Linked DNA regions of Homo sapiens: region 2 is linked to region 1. Evidence: fine-mapped expression QTL. A gene starts in region 1. The other region holds a variant in brackets. All regions are shown on one strand. Distances are from middle to middle. Region 1 holds the start of C1orf50 (chromosome 1 open reading frame 50). Region 2 overlaps CCDC30 (coiled-coil domain containing 30).

The links. PIP is the estimated chance that this variant, and not a neighbour inherited with it, causes the effect.
Region 2: its variant is fine-mapped to the expression of C1orf50 in transverse colon (CEDAR, PIP 0.94).

Annotation. Positions count from the first base shown.
Region 1 is chr1:42,765,014-42,770,392 of GRCh38, reverse strand. It overlaps C1orf50 (chromosome 1 open reading frame 50), which reads right to left and starts at 3,144. Exons shown (of 5, transcript NM_024097.4): 1 at 3,003-3,144; 2 at 2,769-2,884. The coding sequence starts at 3,081. P3H1 (prolyl 3-hydroxylase 1) reads left to right here and starts at 3,365. Exons shown (of 15, transcript NM_022356.4): 1 at 3,365-3,886. The coding sequence starts at 3,422. RefSeq lists silencers at 2,857-2,996, 3,617-3,726 and an enhancer at 3,987-4,106.
Region 2 is chr1:42,648,059-42,653,437 of GRCh38, reverse strand. CCDC30 (coiled-coil domain containing 30) reads right to left here. Exons shown (of 21, transcript NM_001395517.1): 20 at 1-62. The region is part of intron 1 of LOC124904162 (a long non-coding RNA gene); the gene reads left to right. Among named protein-coding and RNA genes, the nearest start is that of PPIH, 7.7 kb to the left of the region's middle. The variant T/ATT (reference allele first, on the strand shown) is at 2,948.

The sequences.
Region 1 (5,379 bases):
GGTATTTCTAGAGCTAAGGTAGTTCCAGATTAGGGGTGGCCTTATAATAACCCTCCCTTTTCTTAAGGTGTTAGCAATAAATCTCATAAACAAAATTTGAATTTATATTTTGAAGAGTTAATATAAAATGCAAAATATGGATTAGTCTGAGGTCCAAAAAAAGGAAAAAAGAAACAAACAAAAAAAATGCAAAATATTTCACGAACAACTTAAAAACAAAAGAGCCTCATAAAAAAGAAAGGAAGGGAAGAGTACCTACAACTACTAAGCACTAACCCTGGCCTCAACTACTCTGAGGCCCTTTACATTCATCTCATTTACTTCTCACAACACCTTTATGACGCTGGAGATGATAACCTCACTTTCTCATTTTAGCAATTAAGACTCACAGACATGAGGCAACCTGTCCAAGGTTTCACAGATAATAAACAGCAAAGGATCTGAACACAGGTCAGATTCCAAAATTCATGCCTTAATACCAGGCCTCCTGAGCTTTCTGAACACACACCAATACCTGGGTCAGTCTTGCTAAAAAAGTACTTTTTTTTTTGAGACGGAGTCTTACTTTGTCACCCAGGCTGGAGTGAAGTGGCACAATCTCCACTCACTGCAACATCTGCCTCCCAGGTTCAAGTGATTCTCCGGCCTCAGCCTCATGAGTAGCTGGAATTACGGGCGTCTGCCACCATGCCCGGCTAATTTTTTGTATTTTTAGTAGAGACAGGGTTTCACTATGTTGGCCAGGCTGGTCTTGAATTCCTGATCTCGTGATCCACCCGCCTTGGCCTCCCAAAGTGCTCGGATTACAAGCGTGAGCCACTGCACCCAGCCCACCACCATTTTTTTTTCTTTTTAGACTTGCTCTGTCACCCAGGCTGGAGTGCAGTGGTGTGATCTCAGCTCACTGCAACCTCTGCCTCCCAGGTTCAAGCAGTTCTCCCGCCTCAGCCTCCAGAGTAGCTTCGGACTACAGGCACACACCACCATGCCCGGCTAATTTTTTGTATTTTAGTAGAGACAGGGTTTCACATGTCGCCCAGGTTGGTCTCCAACTCCTGAGCTCAGGCAATCCTCCCGCCTTAGCCTCCCAAAGTGCTAAGATTACAGGCGTGAGCCACCACACCCAGCCTCATTTTTTTGTTTTTTTTTAAGAGTCTCACTCTGTCACCAATTCTGGAGTACAGTGGTGCGATCTCGGCTCACTGCAACCTCTGTCTCCTGGGCTCAAGCGATTCTCATGCCTCAGCCTCCCGAGTAGCTGAGACTACAGGCATGAGTCACCACACCTTTTAGTAGAGACGGGGTTTCACCATGTTGGCCAGACTGGTCTCGAACTCCTGACTTCAAATGATCCACCCACCTTGGCCTCCCAAAGTGCTGGGATTACAAGTGTGAGCCACGGCACCTGGCCAAAAAGTACATTTTAGATAGTTAATATGTTTGATTCAATTTGTTTGTCTCTAAAGTTTTTTTTTTCTTCAGCTTCTCAAATACAGATTGTATTGGGGAAACAGAGGCAGCATAATAATGCATCCTCTGTATTTCATAAGATTATAGGATGAAAGACAAAAACTGTGTTCTTTCTTCCATCTGTTCAGGCCATCGTAATAAACACGATAGTCATTCAATAGCACATGAATACGTTGTGTGCACAAGATTCTGTCCCTGCCAACCTCCCTCCCAATAAGAGTAATCTGATTAACTAGATGCATATTCTCTTAATAAATAAAAGTTGCACTTTGCTCCCCAGCTCTTCAAAAAGAAGAAAGCCAAGTTTTGAATTAAAGGAGCTTTCTGCGTATCTGAATTTTTCTTAATTTTAAAAAAAAAAGGATTCGAAGGATTTCTAGGATCATTGAAAAAAAAAGAGATGTGAGGGAATTTGAGCACATTAAATAATTTTGGGCAAAGCAAAGACCCTGGAACATAATCAAGGCCAAATCTGATAGTGTATACAGGGATAAGGGGCCATGATAATCTTTAAAACAGCAGGACCCTCCATCTGTGGACACTGAAGAGGGTGTACAACTGGAAGTCTTGATAAGAGATAAGAAGGAATCTGGTTTTTCATTGAATAATGACAAAACTTTAGATCTTGGAGCTCTACTACTTCAAACCTTTCACTTCACAGATAAAATAGTTGAGGTCCAGAGAGAAGTAATCTGCCTTAAGTCGCACTGCAAGTTAGTATCAAAAGTGGGATTAATACTCATGTGTCCAAACTTCCAGTGTTTTTTCCATTATTTCACATTTCCTCCTTATTTGACTTATTTTGGCCATCCATATATAAACACTGGGCTTGGGAATACTGTGTTTAATGAGGACTAAACTTGGAGTCCTTGCCCTGCTAGAAGATGTTTAAACTCTCAGGTAACAAAGATCTTATGGGAAGCAGCTTAAAATAAGCGGACCTTGAAACTTCCCGAAGAACTTTTCTTTGTGTCAAATGGGAAGAATAACTCTGTACTGCCTACCTCACAAGGCTGTCCTAAGGTGCAAATGAAATAATGAACACTAAAGTGTTGTGTAAACCTTCCCACGAAGGAAGATTATGGGCACTCAAGTTGCAGTTAGAGGAACCTTTGGTCCCAGAAGGTCATTCGAATCAGGCCACCGACTCACAATGACAGTCGGCTTTACTCGTCTGTAAAATGGAGACAAGAGCAAATGCCACCCCCACCATAGGTGGTAGTGAGGTCTGAGCCGAAAGACGCAGAGTACAACGTGAACGAAGATGGTTATTCGCTGCCCCGGCCGCGCCTCCTCACCTTCTGCACCTGCTCTGCGAGCGCCACGAGGTCTAAGGGGTCCCCGGCCCGGTGGGTGTGGTAGGGGCTCACCAGGGCCAGGCCGCCGGGGGTCGGGGTGAGCTCCACCAGGGCTCCTGCGACACACACCCAGGAACACAAGCCGTGAGCTCCCGCCGTCGGCCTCCCGCGGAGCCCCGAGACCGGCTGCCTCGCGGGAGCTGACTTCCCCCTGCTGACTCCCGCCCCGCATACCTCCCTGGCCTGCAGCTGGCGGCGCTCCTTGCCTTTCAAGGACCCCCTCGGTCCGCCCCGGCGCGGCGGCGTCCTCCATGACAGCGCCTTATCCTCCCCACTCCCTGGGCTGTGCGAGTAGGAAGAGCCTGCGCATAAAGGCGCGTGGGCGGAGCTTCCGTCTTTCTTGTCTACTGGGCGTCAGTTCGACTGAGCAAGGCCTGAGCTCGGAGGCGGGGCTCCGGCTGACGCGCCGGGATTCGCTGAGGGCCGGTGGGGGGATCCGGGCTGACTGAAAGGAAAAGAGGCGGTGCAAGCCTCGTGGGCATGCGCCGCCCGGCTTGGAAGGTGGGGCTTCGCCCGGGGGCGGGCCTTCGCCGGGGGTAGGACTCCGGCCTTGGTGGCGGGTGGCTGGCGGTTCCGTTAGGTCTGAGGGAGCGATGGCGGTACGCGCGTTGAAGCTGCTGACCACACTGCTGGCTGTCGTGGCCGCTGCCTCCCAAGCCGAGGTCGAGTCCGAGGCAGGATGGGGCATGGTGACGCCTGATCTGCTCTTCGCCGAGGGGACCGCAGCCTACGCGCGCGGGGACTGGCCCGGGGTGGTCCTGAGCATGGAACGGGCGCTGCGCTCCCGGGCAGCCCTCCGCGCCCTTCGCCTGCGCTGCCGCACCCAGTGTGCCGCCGACTTCCCGTGGGAGCTGGACCCCGACTGGTCCCCCAGCCCGGCCCAGGCCTCGGGCGCCGCCGCCCTGCGCGACCTGAGCTTCTTCGGGGGCCTTCTGCGTCGCGCTGCCTGCCTGCGCCGCTGCCTCGGGCCGCCGGCCGCCCACTCGCTCAGCGAAGAGATGGAGCTGGAGTTCCGCAAGCGGAGCCCCTACAACTACCTGCAGGTCGCCTACTTCAAGGTGCAGACCTGCCTGGAACCAGGCGGCCGGGGTCCTTCTGGGGAGAGGAGTGTTGCAGGGGACCTGAGGAGCTTGGGGGATCGGGGAAGTGTCCGCAGGGAGGGGAAAGTGGCCTCCTGGCTGGGGAGCTCTCCTCGGAGCCGGGGAGAGCTGCTCCCTGGCAGGAGACCTTCCTCGCCCAGTTCGCATGGGCAGATGCTAACCCCAAAGGTCCAGCCTGGGGTTAGGGCACAGGCCAAGCAAAACTCATGGCCATTTTGTTCCCTGGGAAATCTCCTGGAAGGAATTAAAGCGGCAGTTTGGGTCTCCCATTCTGATGTCATTGTAAGTGTCCGAGTGAGAAGCTAGTAGCGGTCTACAATATCTCCCTTCCGGTTGGTTTTCCAGTGGTGCTTTTCCTGCTGTTTGATTCAGCAGCTCTCTTTCAGGATGTGAGGTTGCCACGTCGCCAGCAGGGGCTGCCTGGCCCTTTCTGTGTGTGTGTGGGGGCGGGGGGGGGACCCTCTGGCTAGTCTGCCAGGTTTACAAAGAAAATGAGTATTTTTCGGAATGCCAGAGTGCCATGTGTCCAAGTGTACACTTGGGCTTGGAGCGTTCCAGGCTTGTTTGGTGGTGGTGATGGTGACGATGATGATGATGATGATAGCCAGCACATACTTCCAGGCACTATTTTAAGCAGTTTGCATTTATTAACGCATTTGCCCTAATCTTCATAATATCTTGTCAGGTAGATGCTGTTATTAGTCCCACTGTATTGGGGGTGGGGGGAGAAAGAGTTGTGCATTATATCTGGTATATCTGTTGTTTAAAAGACCTTCGATTCGATCTAAAGAGACACTTAGAGACTCTTGGGGACCTCAGATTTCCACCCCTCCACAGCATTCTGCCTACACAGTTCCCCTCATTTTTCCTAGTTACTCGGAAGAGCGCTGGACTTGAAATCAAAATAATTGCGTTATGTCTTTGGTTATGTCGCTTCATCATAGCACTTTCTAAAACTATTTGACAAACATGTATTGCATACCTACTGCATTCCAGTTCTTGTACAAGTAATTAAATGCTCGACTAACGTCTTTGCTTTGTCTTGCTTTGCTGTTAAGAGTTACTGTAGTAAGGGCTACTGCAAGGGCATATACTTAGGGCTGCGGGAGCACAAAGGAGGGAGACTCTAGCTTTATCTCAGAGAAATTAGACTTCAAAGAAGAGGTAATATTGAAGCCTGCCCTAAGTATTGCCAGGGGGAGAGGAAAGAAGGCTCCTCCAGATAGAGAGAAAAGTAGAACCAAAGCATGATGTATTCAGGAAAAAAAATGAACTCTTGTGATTGCAATGTCGAGATGTGTGTGGGGAGTAGTAGGAGAGGCGGCTAGAAAAGTCAGTGAGGCCAGATTTGGAAGAGAATTCTGCGGACTGCAGGGAGCCATCCTCAGATTTGGGTTTTAAAACGCTTATTCTGGAAGCCATGGTGAATGAGCCTTGGAAGAAGGAGAAAG
Region 2 (5,379 bases), 120 kb after region 1:
TTTGATAAAGGCAATATTTCATTCACTACTTCGGATTCAAGGATGTCACTAATTGTTGTTTCCTAAAAGGAAAGAAAGGATGAATGTGAAAAGTTATAATGATAAACCATTAGCTATATGATCCTAGAAAAAAATATATATATAATAGATACAATACCTGCACATAGTACAAACAATGAAAAACATAAAAGGGTACAGAATGAAAAGCTGGTTGCCCTCTCTCTCTCTATATATATAACCTATCTATATTTATCTATAGACGATCTATCTATATCTGTCTATCTAGTTTTACACACATGGTACTATACATACTATCTTCACCTTGCTTCTTTTGTTATATAAATTTTGGAGATATTGCAGAAAATTTTATTTTTAAAATAACTGCTTTGTTGAGAAGTAATTCACATACTATAAAGTTTTCCCTTTTAACGGGTTCAATTCAGTGCTTTCTAATGTACTCACACACTTATGCAACCATCACCACTGTCTAATTCCAGAATATTTTCATCACCCCCCAAAAAAGCCCATACCCAGGAGCAGTCTACTCCCCATTTATTCCTCCCCCAAATCCTTGGCAATCACTAATATACTTTCTGTCTTTATGGATTTCCTTATTCTGGATGTTTCATATAAATAGAATCATACAATATGTGGCCTTTTATGTCTGCCTTCTTTAAAATATTATCATGTTTTCAAGCTTCATTATGTTAGAGTAAGTATCAATAGTTTATGTCTTTTATGGCTGAATAATATTCCAGTGTTTGGATAAAACACATTTTGTTTATCCATTCATCAGGGGATGGAGAGTGGGTTGTTTTCACTTTTTAGTTATTATGAATAATGCTGCTATGAATATTTATCTACAAGTTTCTGGTAGGACATATATTTTTATTTCTCTTGGATATTGTGATGGTCAGAAAGTTTTTTCAAATTTTTATTTATACTATTGAATATTGACAAATTATAAGTGCCTATACTTACGGTGTACAAAGTGATGCTATGATATATAATATGGAATGATTGAATTGAGGTAATTAACATATCCATCACCTCAAATACTTACTCCTCCGGTCTAACTGAAACATTGCACCTTTGGCCAACATCTCCCCATTGCCTCCTCACCCCTCAGCCTCTGGTAACCAGCATTTTGCTCTATGCTTACATGTGTTCAATTGTTTTAGATTCCACATTTAAGTGAGAAGATGTGGTATTTGTTTTTCTGTGCCAGGCTTTTTTCACTTAGCATAATATCCTCCAGGTTCACCAATGTTGTTGCCAATGACAGAATTTCCCTCCTTTTTAAGGTTAAATAGTATTGTATCATATATATATACCACATTTTCACACACCATAGTGTATATCACATACTGACTTCAAATCCTTTGGATGTATACCCAGAAGTAAGATTGCTGGATCATATGGTAGTTCTATTTTCACTTTGTTGGGGAAACTCCACAGTTTTCCATAATTGCTGTACTAATTTATATTCCAAACAACAGTGTACAAGGTTTCCCTTTTCTCCACATCCTTGCCAACACATTATCTTTCATATTTTTGGTTTGTTGAGATAGGGTGTTGCTCTGTCACCCAGGCTGGAGTGCAGTAGCATGAACATAGTTCACTGCAGCCTTGACCTCCTGGGCTTAAGGAATCCTCACACCTCAGCCTCCTGAGAAGCTACAACCACAGGTGCACACCACCACACCCAACTAATTAAAACAAAAAAAATTTTTTTTTGTAGATACAGGGTCTTGCTGTGTTGCCCAGGCTGGTCTGGAACTCCTGACCTCAAGCAATCTTTCCACCTCAGCCTCCCAAACTGCTGGGATTACAGGTTTGGGCTACCATGCCTGGCCCTTATCTTTCATCTTTTTGATAACAGTCATTTTGACAGGTGTGAGGTGATATCCCATTGTGGTTTTAATGTGCATTTCCATAACGATTCATGATGTTGAGCTTTTTTTTTTTCATATATCTGTTGTCCATTTGTATGTCTTTTTTTGAGAAATGTCTATTCAGGCCCTTTGCCTACTTTTTAATTGGGTTGTGTTCTTGCTATTGAGTTGAGATCCTTATATATTTTGGATATTAATCCCTTATCAGATGTGTAGCTTACAGATATTTTCTCCCAATCCATAGGTTGCCTCTTCACTCTGTTAATTGTTTCTTTTGCTGTGCAGAAGCTTTTTAGTTTGATATAATCCCATCCCATTTGTATATGTTTGTTTTTGTTCCCTGAGCTTTTCGTGTCACATTGGAAAAATTGTTGTCCAGGTCAATATCATGTAGTTTTTCCCCTATGTAGTGTTCTTCTAGTAGTTTTACAATTTCAGGTCTTGTCTTTAAGTCTTTAATCCATTTGGAGTTGATTTTTTAATGTGGTGTTAGGTAACGGTCCACTTTCATTCTTCTGCACATAGATATCCAGTTTTCTCAATACCGTTTTGTTGAAGGGACTGTCCTTTTCTCAATGTCATTTTCATCCTTTGTCAAAAAATTAACTGACTGTAGGCCAGGTGTGGTGTCTGACACCTATAATCCCAGCATTTTGGGAGGCCAAGGCAGAAGCATTGCTTAAGCCCAGGAGTTTGAGACCAGCCTGGGCAACATGACAAGACCCCATCGCTACAAAAAATTTAAAGAATTAGCTGAGTGTGATGGCGTGCACCTATGGTTCCAGCTACTTGGAAGGCTGAGGTGGGAGGATTGCTTGAGCCCAGGAAGTTGAGGCTGCAGTGAGCTGTGATTGCCACTGCTCTCCAGCCTGGGCAGCAGAAAAAGAAAAATCAATTTTAAATGTGTGGGTTTGTTTTTAAGCTCTCTATGCTGTTTCATTTTGTCAATGTGTCTGTTTTAATGCCAGTCCCATGTTGTTTTAATTACTGTAGTTCTGTTATACACACACACACACACACACACACACACACACACACACACACATATATAT[T/ATT]TTTTTAGACAGGGTCTTGTTCTGTTACCCAGGCTGGAGTGCAGTGGCACAATCATGGCTCACTGCAACCTCTACCACCTGGGCTCAAGCAATCCTCTTGCCTCAGCCTCCCAAGTAGCTGAGATTACTATGCCCAGCTAATTTTTTACTTTTTTGTAGAGATAGGGTTTTGCAATGTTGGTCTTGAACTCCTGGGTACAAGCTGGTCTCAAACTCCTGGGCCCAAGCAATCTGCCCCCCTCAGCCTCCCACAGTGCTGGGATTACAAGCCTGAGCCACCGTGCCCAACCTGTAATATAGTTTGAAATCAGGTAGTATGAGGCCTCCAGCTTTGTTCTTTCTGCTGAATATTGCCTTGGCTATTTGGGGGTTTTGTAGTTCCACATGAATTTTAGGACTGTTTTTTCTATTTCTACGAAAAATGACATTGGAATTTTGATAGGTATTGCACTGAACCTATAGATTGCTTTGGGTGGTATGGGCATTTTAGCAATATTAATTCTTTCGATTCATGAACATTAATATCTTTTCATTTATCGTATTTTCTTCAATTTATTTCATCAAAGTTTTGTAGTTTTAAGTATACGGATCTTTCACCTCTTTGGTTAAATTTATTCCTGAGTAGTTTATTTCTTTTGAAGTTATTGTAAATGGTATTATTTTCTTTATTTCTTTTTTGGATAATGTGTTATTGGTGTATAGAAGCACTACTGATTTTGGTGTGTTGATTTTGGTGTGTTGATTTTGTATCCTTCAACTTTACTATATTTGCTTCTTAGTTCTAACAGTTTTTAGGGATTTCTATATATAAGATCATGTCAACAAGTAGACACAATTTCAGTTTCCTTTCCTATTTGGATGCCTTTTATTTCTTTCTCTTGCCTAATTGCTCTGGCAAAGATTTCCAGTATATATGAAATAGAAGTGGTGAGCGTGGGCATCCTTGTCTTGTTCTTGATCTTTGAGAAAAAGCTTCCAACTTTTCTCCATTGAGTATAATGTTAGCTGTGGGCTTGTCATATATGGCCTTTATTGTATTGAGGTACATTCCTCCTAAACCTAATCTTTTGAGAGTTTTTATCATGAAAGGATTTGAATTTTGTCAGATGCTTTTTCTGTATGTAATAAGATGATCATATGGTTTTTGTCCTTCATTCTATTAATGTGGTGTATCATGTTTATTGATTTGCATATGTTGAGCCATCCTTGTATTCCTGGGACAAATCTCACTTGATCATGGTGAATGATCTTTTTATAGTCTTGCCTGGTTTTGGCATCTGGGTAATGCTGGCCTCATTTAATGAGTTTGTTAGTATTCCCTCCTCTTTATTTTTTTTGAAGAGTTTGAGTAAGATTGGTATTCCTTCTTTAAATATTTGGTGGACTTCAGGAGTGAATCCAGCAGGTTCTGATCTTTTCTTTGATGGAAGACTTTTTATTATGGCTTTGATCATATGATTCATTATTCGTTTGTTGAAGTTTTCTATTTCTTCATGGTTCAATCTTGGTAGGTTGTATGTTTCTAGAAATTTATCCATTTCTTCTAGGTTTTCCTATTTGTTGGCATATGGTTATTCATAATAGTCTCTAATGATTCTTTGTATTTCTGAGATCTCAGTTGTTATGTCTCCTTTTTCATTTCTGATTTATTTATTTGGGTCTTCTCTCTTTTTTTCTTAGTTTGTCCAGCTAAAGATTTGTTGATTTTGTTTATCTTAAAAAAAAACCCAACTTTTTGTTTCATTGATCTTCTATATTGTTCTTTTAATCTCAATTTCATTTATTTCTGCTCTAATCTTTTTTGTTTGTTTGTTTTGTTTTGAGACAGAGTCTTGCTCTGTCACCCAGGCTGGAGAGCAGTGGCGTGATCTCGGCTCACTGCAACCTCCACCTCCCAAGTTCAAGTGATTCTGCTGCCTCAGCCTCCCAAGTAGCTGGGATTACAGGTGCATGCCACCACGCCCAGCTAATTTTTTGTATTTTTAGTAGAGACAGGGTTTCACTGTGTTAACCAGGATGGTCTCAATCTCCTGACCTTGTGATCCGCCTGCCTTGGCCTCCCAAAGTGCTGGGATTATAGGTGTGAGCCACTGCGCCCGGCCTGCTCTAATCTTTATTATTTCTTTCCTTGTATCAATTTTGGGTTTGGTTTGTTCTTGCTTTTCTAGTTTCTTGAGGTGCATCTTCAGGTTATTTGAAGTCTTTCCACTTTTTTGATATAGGTGTTTGTTGTTATAAACTTCCCTCTTAAGGCCAGGCATGGTGGCTTATGCCTATAATCCCAGCACTTTCGGAGGCTGAGGCGGGTGGATCACCTGAGGTCGGGAGTTCCAGACCAGCCTGACCAACATGGAGAAACCCCGTCTCTACTAAAAATACAAAATTAGCCAGGCATGGTGGCACATGCCTGTAATCCCAGCTACTCAGGAGGC